Linked DNA regions of Homo sapiens: region 1 is linked to region 2. The links come from fine-mapping of genetic effects on gene expression. Tissue or cell type: monocytes after LPS. Region 2 holds a variant in brackets; the other region holds the start of a gene. All regions are shown on one strand. Distances are between the middles of the regions.

Region 1 (5,143 bases), 600 kb before region 2:
CACCCCAGGGCCAGGCCTCTGTCCTCCCCAGAAACTTGTCCTCGCCCACTCCACCTGCAAGTCCTCTAGGGGCTGAGCACTACACAGGAACACGTGCAGATTCCAGCACCCAGAGGTCCTTCACACCTAGCCACAGGGCCTCTGGCAGCCTCGGCCATCCTCTCTGCGTGCCTGAGGCGGCTGCGCTGAGCAGTGGGGGACCCAGGAAAGGTCACGGCTCCCCCAGCACATCTGACACACCTCCCGCCGGGCCAGCTGCTGGCTTCAGCAAGCAGACGTCCCCTTCCTATGGAAAAGCCCATGAAAGCTGATTTGAAATATCTGAGCAGCTGTTTGAAGGACGTGGATCAGCCCTGTTCAGCGGCCTGAGCGGAGAGCGGGGCCAGAGGTACAAGCCTGGGACGGCCCGCAGGCTCTGGGAGACACAAGTCTTCTCAGACTTAGGCCTCATGGGACCCCAGGGGCCTGGTCAGCTGGGTTCCCCAAGGGCTCACCCACAGAGAGCCTCCGTTCTCAGTGTCGCTGTGGATGACCAACACTAAAACCCCCAAGCCCAGACCGCACCTCGTTCCCGCTCACCTCGGAATCCCTGGAGAAATCAGACATCAGCCCTTTAAAAGTTCCCCAGTGACTTTAACGTGCAACCCAGGTGGGGCGTCACTAGGCCAGGTGTCACCCATGTGTGCCCCCAACTGGAGGCCCTCAGTGGGCTTGTTCGAGGGCCTCCAGGCTGGATGTTCGCCCCAGATGGCCCAGATGGCCTATTTTGTGCATTGTCTGGCTGTGTGGAAACAGAACAGCACCATAGTGACATCTAGCCCGGATGTGGGCATGGCCCACCGACCACTGACCGCCTACGTCGTTCTTCCACCCCGAGCGCCCGCATATCCCGTTCCGTTCACCTCCCACTGGGGTCAACACTCCCTTCACAGCCTCCATCTTCCCCGGGGCAGTCCCATTGCTTTGGAGACTTCAAAAAATTGTACTCACAAAAGGGGTCGACATGTTCTATCTTCTCCTGGAAGCGGGGTGTGTCCTTGTTCCCAGTGACATTCAGCGTGTGCAGGGCCCGTACGCATGCACTCTGGCCTCCAAAGCACCTGTCGTTGTGGAGATTCCACAGCAGGCAGGGTGGAGATGGTGAGCCGCAGACATCACACCTGCCCCAGGTCAGGCCGAGGCTGCTCATCAGGAGCCCCGAGACCTCGAATGCAACGTCTTCAGATCCCAATTCCCTCCCTGCATGGAGCAGAACAGTGTCTCTCAAAAACTCACGCCCACGAGAAGTCTCAGAATGTGGCTTTTAGTAGAAATAGGGTCTCTGCAGATGTCTTTCATTAAGCTGAGGCCATATTGAGTGAGGGTGGATCCCAATCCAGTAACTGGGGTCTGTATAAGGAGAGAGAACAGAGGCACATGAACGGAAGGTCAAGCGACAACGGGTGCAGGGATGGCAGCCAGGCAGCCACAAGCCAAAGGACGCCCAGGATGGCCAGCAGCCCTGGAAGCCGGGAAAGACAAGGGAGGCTCTTCCCCTACAGCCTGCAGAGGGAGCAGGTCATTATCTGTTAATATCTTGATGTTGCAGTTTGGCCTCCAGAACTGTGAGAAATGTGATGTTGTTTGATGCCACCCAGTTTGTGTTCCTCTATTACAGCAGCCCCGGAGACTAGTAAGTGGGTCCCTGGCAGAGGAAGGGGACAGAGCGTCGAATTCTCCTCCCCGCAGGGAGCCACCTGGGCTCCGAGAAACCCTTGCACCGGCCAGAGGCCATGACACTAATGCTGGAATGTTCTCTGTGAGCGATGAAGCTTTCAACCAGACTCCGCTAGAGAAAAATACCCGACAGAACTGTTTACCCGATTAAATGAAATTAAATTCAGTTTTCTTGTTGCCAAGCAGAAATGAGGCCCTGTCATAGGAATGTCTGAGCAGTTATAAAAATAGGAGTTCATGTTTGCACATAGCTGGTTGAAAACAGAAAATTCACACCTGCTCTAAGAGATAAACAATGCACAGCTGAGCGTTGAACTCACACAAACGAGCCACCATGCACTGCAGAACAGAAACAGAAGAAGACTTAAGAAAAAAGCCAAGATAAATGATCACAGCCAGGCACGGTGGCTCATGCCTGTAATCCCAGCACTTTGGGAGGTTGAAGCAGGCAGATCATTTGAGGTCAGGAGTTCAAGACCAGCCTGACCAACATGGTGAAATCCCATCTCTACAAACAAACAAAGAAACAAACAAAGAAACAAACAAAAAATTAGCTGGGTGTGGTGGCAGGTGCCTGTAATCTCAGCTACTCAGGAGGCTGAGGCAGGAGAATCACTTGAACCTGGGAGGCAGAGGTTGCAGTGAGTGGAGATCACACCACTGGACTCCAGCCTGGGTGACAGAGTGAGACTCCATCTCAAAAAAAAAAAAAAAAAAGATCCTTCCTCCCCAATTCCAACACCCCCCAGGAAAACTCAGTCTACAATTGAATATAAAGCAAAGAACTGGCTGTTTGAAAAGTTCATCAAAACGTGCAAATGTCTGGCAAGATAAATAAAGAAAAACCACAAACATAAACCACGCCAGCCTGGGCAAAAGAGTGAGAAGAGAAGAGGGGAGAAGAGGGGAGAAGAGGGGAGGGGAGAAGAGGAGAGAAGAGGGGAGGGGAGGGGAGAAGAGGAGAGAAGAGGGGAGGGGAGGGGAGAAGAGGGGAAGGGAGAAGAGAGGGGAGGGGAGGGGAGAACGGGAGGGGAGGGGAGGGGAGAAGAGGGGAGAAGAGGGGAGGGGAGGAAAGAAAGAGAGAGAAAAGGAGTGAGGGAGGGAGGGAAGGAAGGAAGGAAACCAAAGGCCAGAGGAGAGCCTGGAGGGGGTCCTGCTCACAGCCTCAGAAGGGATCAACCCTGCAGACACCTGGATATCAGACTTTGGCCTCCAGAACTGTAAGATGGTACCTTTCTGTTGTTAAAGCCAGGGGTCCTCAACCCCTGGGGCCACAGACAGTGCCCTGTCTGGGCCACACAACAGGAAGTGAGCAAACGAAGCTTCATCTGTATTTGCAGCCACTCCTCATCACTCATGTTACCGCAGAACTCCGCCTCCTGTCAGATCAGTGGTGGCATTTGATTCTCAGAGGAGCACGAACGGTATTGTAAACTGCGCATGCGAGGGATCTAGGTTGTGGGCTTTTTTTTTTTTTTTTTTTTTTTTTTTTTGAGACACAGTCTCGCTCTGTCGCCCAGGCTGGAGTGCAGTGGCGCAATCTCGGCTCACTGCAAGCCCCGCCTCCCGGGTTCACGCCATTCTCCTGCCTCAGCCTCCTGAGTAGCTGGGACTACAGGTGCCCACCACCATGCCTGGCTAATTTTTTTGTATTTTTAGTAGAGACAGGGTTTCACCGTGTTAGCCAGGATGGTCTCGATCTCCTGACCTCGTGATCTGCCCTCCTGGGCCTCCGAAAGTGCTGGGATTACAGGCGTGAGCCTCCGAGCCCAGCCCCTGAGCCACCGCGCCCAGCGGTTGTGGACTTCTTATGAGAATCTAATGCCTGATGACCTGTCACCATCTCCATCACCCCCAGATGGGTCTGTCTAGTTGCAGGAAAACAAGCTCAGGGCTCCCACTGATTCTTCATGATAGCGCAGTTGTATAAGGATTTCATTATATATTACAATGTAATGATAATAAAGTACACAATCAATGTAATGTGCTTGAATCATCCTGAAACCATCCCCCACCCCTGCCCCCATCCATGGAAAAAATTTTCTTCCACAAAACTCATCCCTGGTGCCAAAAAGGTTGGGGACTGCTGGTTTGAGCCAAAAACAAAAATCAAAAAAACAAAAACAGGCTGGGCACGGTGGGCGGCTCACACCTGTAATGCCAGCACTTGGGGAGGCCAAGGCGGGCAGGTCACTTGAGCCCAGGAGTTTGAGACCACCCTGGGCAACATGGCAAAGCCCCGTCTCTACTAAAAATACAAAAATTAGCAGGGCGTGGTGGCAGGCACCTGTAATCTCAGCTACTTGGGAGGCTGAGGCACGAGAATCACTTGAACCCAGGAAACGGAGGTTGCAGTGAGCTGAGATCACGCCACTGCACTCCAGCCTGAGCGACAGAGAGAGACTGTCTCAAAAACAAAAACAAACTTCTCCCCCTCTCCCTTCCCCCCAGAGGTCGCCAGGCCAACACCATTTTACCGATTCTGACAAACCTTCCATGAATATATAATTTCCATGTTATTTAAATTACTACAGAACCCCTGAAGAGATTATTTTATCTTTTTTTTTATAGAGATGGGGTCTCACTATATTGCCCAGGCCAGTCTCAAACTCCTGGCCTCTGGCAATTCTCCCGCCTCGGCCTCCCAAAGTGCTGGGATTACAGGCAAGAGGTTATTTTTATAAAGTGAAGGTTTTCCTAGGTTATTTTATAAAAGTGAAGGCTTTGCTAGCAAAGACTGACCAAAGTAGTCAAGGAAAATGAGAGATCAATGTCTCACGGGAAATGAGAGATTCAAGAACCCAAATCAACCATCAGCAAGTGGGCAGTAACTGTCCCTATTAAAAATGATCCTTAGGAGGCTGGGTGCGGTGGCTCACACCTGTAATCCCAGCATTTTGGGAGGCCAAGGTGGGAAGATTGCTTGAGCCCAGGAATTTGAGACCAGCCTGGGCAACATGGTGAAACCCTCTCTCTAAAAAAATAAAAGTGATCCCGGCCAGGTATGGTGGCTCACACCTGTAATCCCAGCACTTTGGGAGGCTGAGGCAGGTGGATCATGAGGTCAGGAGATCGAGACCATCCTGGCTAACACAGTGAAACCCCATCTCTACTAAAAATACAAAAAAATTAGCTGGGCATGGTGGCGGTGCCTGTAATCCCAGCTACTTGGGAGGCTGAGGCAGGAGAATGGTGTGAACCCAGGAGGCAGAGCTTGCAGTGAGCCAAGATCACGCCACTGCACTCCAGCCTGGGCAACAGAGTGAGACTCCATCTCAAAAAAAAAAAAAAAATCCCATGACTCAGTAGGCTTGATTCCAGAACATAAGTTTGGTTCAAATTAAGATATTTACCCACATAAATTGTTATATGAATAAACTAAAAGTGAGAGACCATTTGAACATTTCAGTAACATTTCAATAGCTAC
Region 2 (5,143 bases):
CCCCGGATCAATTCTGTAAGTGCTCAGCTGCTGGATTGACTCTGGAACTCCTCACAGCCAAGGGGAGCGTGTGTCCATGCCTCGAGGACCCACAGACCCCAGCTGGGTAGGGGGCTGCTGGGCAGAGCCGGAGGGGGTACTGGGTCCCTTCTGCCTCAGCAGCAAGTCCACAAATGTGTGTGAGGTGCCAACTGCAGGCTGGGCCCATTCCACACCAGGGACCCAGCTTTGAACCAAACAGGTTAACCTTCCTGCACTCCTGGGCTTTACCCCGTACTGGGGAGGAGAGTCAACAAACATAATTTAGAAAATTGTCTTGCATGTCAAAGGGCGACAGTGGTGGGGGAAGCAGGATGGGGGTGTGGGAGGGCAGAGGAGGGGGCTGCAGTGTTCAGCCAGGTGGTCAGAGTAAGTGTAATTGATGAGGTGATGTTCAGGCCCATCTGGATAGGCCCAAAGAGGGGGCTCTGAGGCTTTCTGGGGAGAATATTCCAGCAAAAAGAATATCCCTGGCAAAGGGCATTCCACATCATGGGATATGTCTAGCTATTTGGGGAACCAGCAAGGTGGCCCATGGGCTGGAGTAATGAGAGTGGGCAGGCAGCAGTGGGAGAAGTGGTCAGATCATAGGAGGTCCTATATGGGAGGGTATTGTGAGGACTTTGGCCTTTCTCCAAGAGAAGTGGGAGTCACAGGAGGATTTGGAGCAGAGGAGGAGTGCAGCCCAACTTGGGCTTTAACCGTATTAGCGTCACCCCAACAGCACATTCCCTGGATAGGAAGTGGGCCAGGTGTCTAAAGATGGACCTCATGACCATCTTTGCTCAGCCTGAGGATTTTGTAATGGTTGGTATTCACGGGGAGGTGGGGATGGCTTCCTGGCCTGATGAGCAGTCACCTGCCTGCTATGCTTCCCACCGTGGTCAAGAGAACGCATGGGGTCTGTGACTGCACCCAGTGTGTCCTGGGCATCACCCTGTGGAGCAGGAGGAGCCTGGGATGTGGCAAAACTCAGACCTGAGCTCAAATTCCAGACCAGCCACTGTCCTGCTGGGCAGCTTTGAGCAGATTACTTAACCTTTCTGAGCCTCTGTTCCCTTTTTGGTAGAGTGGGGATGGCAACATCTACCTTCCTGGGGTGACTATGGGGGTTTAGCAGTCACCAAGGTGGAGGGTCTGGCACACAGGTATTGGATAAAAAATATCACATTAATCAAGGGACATGGGCATTTGCAGGTATGTGAGTTAGGAAAGAGGGAGCGTGAGGCTGGCAAATTTCTACACCAGCGTGAGACTGGATAAGGACAGACTCCAGCTCTGACAAGTTGCTCGGGAGGCTCTGGGACCTGCCAGGCCTGGGGGAACCCACTAAGCATTCTGGGCAGGGACCTCTCACTCTGGCCTGCGCGGAGCATCTGCAGAAGCAGCAGAAGGCTGCGGTGCCTCCAACCCCGCCTTGCTCCCCTTTCTCACTCCCGTGTCTCTTCCCTCCCTCCTTCCCTCTCCCTCTAACTTATCTGCAAGCGCCAGCCAGTTGGCAGGCTGGACACTCAGCAAAGGAGCCATGGAGACTTCTTGCTGGTTTTGGCCGAGACCACCAGTTTTGTGTGTTGAGTCCCCAGAGGCGAATTCCAGCAGAGGAGGGACAAAGTAAGTCCTGAGAGGTCCAGCGAAGCAGCGAGCCAGAGAACATCCACAGAGGCAGGTTGGGCCTCAGTTTCGGAGTGGTTTCCCCTTTTCCTCCTGGGCTGGTGTCCTTTGATCCCATGGACCAGATGGAGGTGTCCCCATGGATGTCAGAAATCCAGCCCACCCCTAAGAGGGGGTGAGTATTGTTTGAGCATCAGCTCGTCCAGGGCAGGGGCTTTGTTTGGCTCCTTGTTGCATCTCAAGCATGTCATTTGTGCTCACTGCACAGGAGATGAGCAGGTCTCTGATGCCAGTGGGGGACTCTGCCATAGAGAAGGATTCAGCACAGGGCCCCGCTCATTCCCGGCTGGCTGGGGGATGGCGGCGTGGGGAGGCTGACTGGCGGCGGTTACTCACTCTTCCATGGCTTATAACTGGAGCACATGTGATGGCCAAGAGGCAAAAAGCAAAGTGCCCAGGAAGACCCTGACCAGCCTGAGGGATGCAGGCAGGTGGCCTCAGTGTCCAGGTGAGGGTGGGAGAAATCCAGGGGCAGGGGAAGGTAGGCTCGGGGCCTCTGTGTTGGTTTTTCCTTCTGAGCTGGTAATGCCAAGGCCAGCGAGGTCCTGAATTGTAGCCATCACATTGCATGGACCTCCACTTTGCTTAGTGGGGAGCAGATAGGTACTGCAGCTTTTTAGCCACCAACAGCGATAAAACCCACCTTCTTTGTGGACCTCCCCCTACGAATCCTCTGGAGAGACAAGGGGCCCTGCGGTCAGCGTCAATGTAAGGCCTGCAGGGTCAGAAGGACCCAGGTGTGGGCAGCCAGGCTGGCCAGGGACGCATGTCTTCCCTGCCCTTCCTCCGTAGGACGGAGCCTGGCCTGCTCCTCCTTCTAAGCTGCTTACAGGTCTCTCTCGTCACCTGTTCTGTCTTAAGTGGGATTGTGTCAAGACCTCACTATCTCGCCTCTCCTCCCTGGCGCTATCCGTGGGCTCTCCGTGTTCCCTCCGGCCTGTGCCTTGGCAAAGCTGTC[C/T]GCTCCGGAGCGGGCGGGGTGGCCATGAAGCCTGAGAGAGAGGTGTGTGTCCTGCTCTCTGCACCGTGACGCCTCCCGCTCCCTGAAAACCAGGGAGAAATTACTCTGCCCAAGCGGAACACGCCCGGACAAGCCTCCTCTCCAGCTGTAATTAATACTCTGGGGAAAACACAGACTTGGGGTTTTCATACTTCCACACAAACACACACACACTCACAGATTTCTTTCCATTGTCCTCCGATCCCATCTCAAATGTTTAATGTCCTGCTTCTTTCATGGGTAGCACAAAACCACCCAACTGGATACATCCAGAAAGCCAAGGGAGGCACCAGGGACCCTCTTCAGGTTCCGTGATGCAGAACTTGAGCGTTTGGGAGCTGATTTGCCAACAAGCAGTGCCCAGGCTGCATCCCTGACGTGGAGCAAAGCAGCTTTGGCCTTCTCAGAGTCAGAAATAGCCGTGAGTTTGGGTTAACCCTTTGTGGTCAACATTCTGGGGCATTGCTCTTTATTTCCCCCATCACAGTAGCCTAACTGATGCGCTAGTCCAAACACGTGTGCGCATACCAAGCGCTCCTGCCACCTGACTCATTACAAAACACTCTGGTGAGGCAGGAGCCTTGCAGTTCCATGAAGCTAGGCAGCTGGCAACTCTGATATTGGAAATGTTCTCTCAAAGGACAGGAGAGGGCCGGGCGCAGTGGCTCATGCCTGTAATCCCAGCACTTTGGGAGGCCGAGATGGGCGGATCACTTGAGGTCAGGAGTTCAAGACCAGCTGGCCAATATGGTGAAATCCCATCTCTACTAAAAATACAAAAAAAGTAGCCAGGCGTGGTGGCATACGCCTGTAATCCCAGCTACTTGGGAGGCTGAGGCAGGAGAATGGCTTGAGCACGGTAGGCAGAGGTTGCAGTGAGCCGAGACTGTGCCATCGCACTCCAGCCTGGGTGACAGTGTGAATGAGACTCTGTCAAAAAAAAAAAAAAAAAAAAAAAAAAAAAAAAAAAAAGGGACAGGGCTGGGCGTGGTGGCTCACATCTGTAATCCCAGCACTTTGGGAGGCCGAGGAGGGCAGATCACTTGAGGTCAGGAGTTTGACACCAGCCTGACCAACATGGTGAAACACCATCTCTACTAAAAATACAAAAAAATTAGCCAAGTGTGGTGGTGCACATCTGCAATCCCAGCTACTCAAGAGGCTGAAGCAGGATAATTGCTTGAACCTGGGAGGCAGAGGTTACAGTGAGCTGAGATGGTGCCACTACACTCCAACCTGGGTGACAGAGCAAGACTCCATCTCAAAAAAAAAAAAAAAAAAAAAAAAGACAGGAGAGCTCAAGTGGGCCAGGAAGGGTGGAGTCCTCTGCATCTCCCACTGGTCAGAGAGCTCCTTTGGGGTGGCATGAGGAGGTGGGGATGGGAATGGGCTCAGAAATCCAAACCCGTGAAATCCACAGTCTCCTACAGGGAGGCTTGACTTCTCCAGGGAAATTCTCAGTGTGAAAAGTAGCCTGAACAACCAGGACTGTGGTCTTGCCTTGGCCACTTCCAACGTGGGCCTGGGTGAATAATCGACCCATCCTAAGCCTCAGTTTCCTCATCTGTAGAATAGGGACACCATTCCTGCCTTTTGAACAGGCCTGTTGTACGGATGACATGGGACGGCAGGTTTCACTTGTGATGACCTGTGTCCAAGCTCCTAATCAGCTGGAGATGCTGTGCCCAGATAAAGGATTGGGTATGTCCGACTCAGCTGAGGCAGGTGCAGGGACCATGATTTGGAAGACCAAACAGGCTCAGCTTCTCATGGGTCCTCCTCAGCTATTCTCACTGGGGGCAAGGGGGGTGCCGCCCAGAGGCACAGTGACACGCAGTGATGATGAGGCTGGTTGGGTTGCCGTCGGCCTCTAGGTTCCCTTCTCCCCAGTTTTCTCATGTTCCTCACCACCCAGTCTTTGAGAGGCTTGGAGGCATTGTTTTTCTCTCACTTTCTCTCCATATTTATTTATTTATTTTTTTGAGATGGAGTCTTGCTTTGTCACCCAGGCTGGAGTGCAGTGGTACGATCTTGGCTCACTGCTACCTCTGCCTCCTGGGTTCAAGCGATTCTCCTGCTTCAGCCTCCAGAGTAGCTGGGACTACAGTCACCCGCCACCATACCCGGCTAATTTTTTGTATTTTTAGTAGAGATGGGGTTTCACCATGTTGGCCAGGCTGGTCTCGATCTGCTGACCTCGTGATCCGCCCGCCTCGGCCTCCCAAAGTGCTGGGATTACAGGGGTGAGCCACGGCACCCGGCTCTCCTTATTCTTTACAATCAAAATGTTCCTGAGAAGAAACGCTGTGAAGCAGTCTTGCTAAGCCTTTCCAGAGCTAAGTTCCGGCTCCTGCAGAGCCCTCATCATTGAGGAGAGGAGGCTGTTCTCAAGGCATGGGAAGCAAAGGTGCCTGTCTCTACACTAGGACTGTGTGT

Evidence for each region. PIP is the estimated chance that this variant, and not a neighbour inherited with it, causes the effect.
Region 1: SCAT1 starts here. The variant in region 2 is fine-mapped to the expression of SCAT1 in monocytes after LPS (Quach 2016, PIP 0.95).

What each region holds. Positions count from the first base shown.
Region 1 is chr17:78,629,042-78,634,184 of GRCh38, forward strand. It overlaps SCAT1 (S-phase cancer associated transcript 1), which reads right to left and starts at 3,016. Exons shown (of 5, transcript NR_110849.1): 1 at 2,949-3,016; 2 at 991-1,389. RefSeq lists an enhancer at 2,850-3,351.
Region 2 is chr17:79,225,589-79,230,731 of GRCh38, forward strand. All of the region lies in intron 4 of RBFOX3 (RNA binding fox-1 homolog 3), which reads right to left. Among named protein-coding and RNA genes, the nearest start is that of ENGASE, 150 kb to the left of the region's middle. RefSeq lists an enhancer at 2,035-2,806. The variant C/T (reference allele first, on the strand shown) is at 2,669.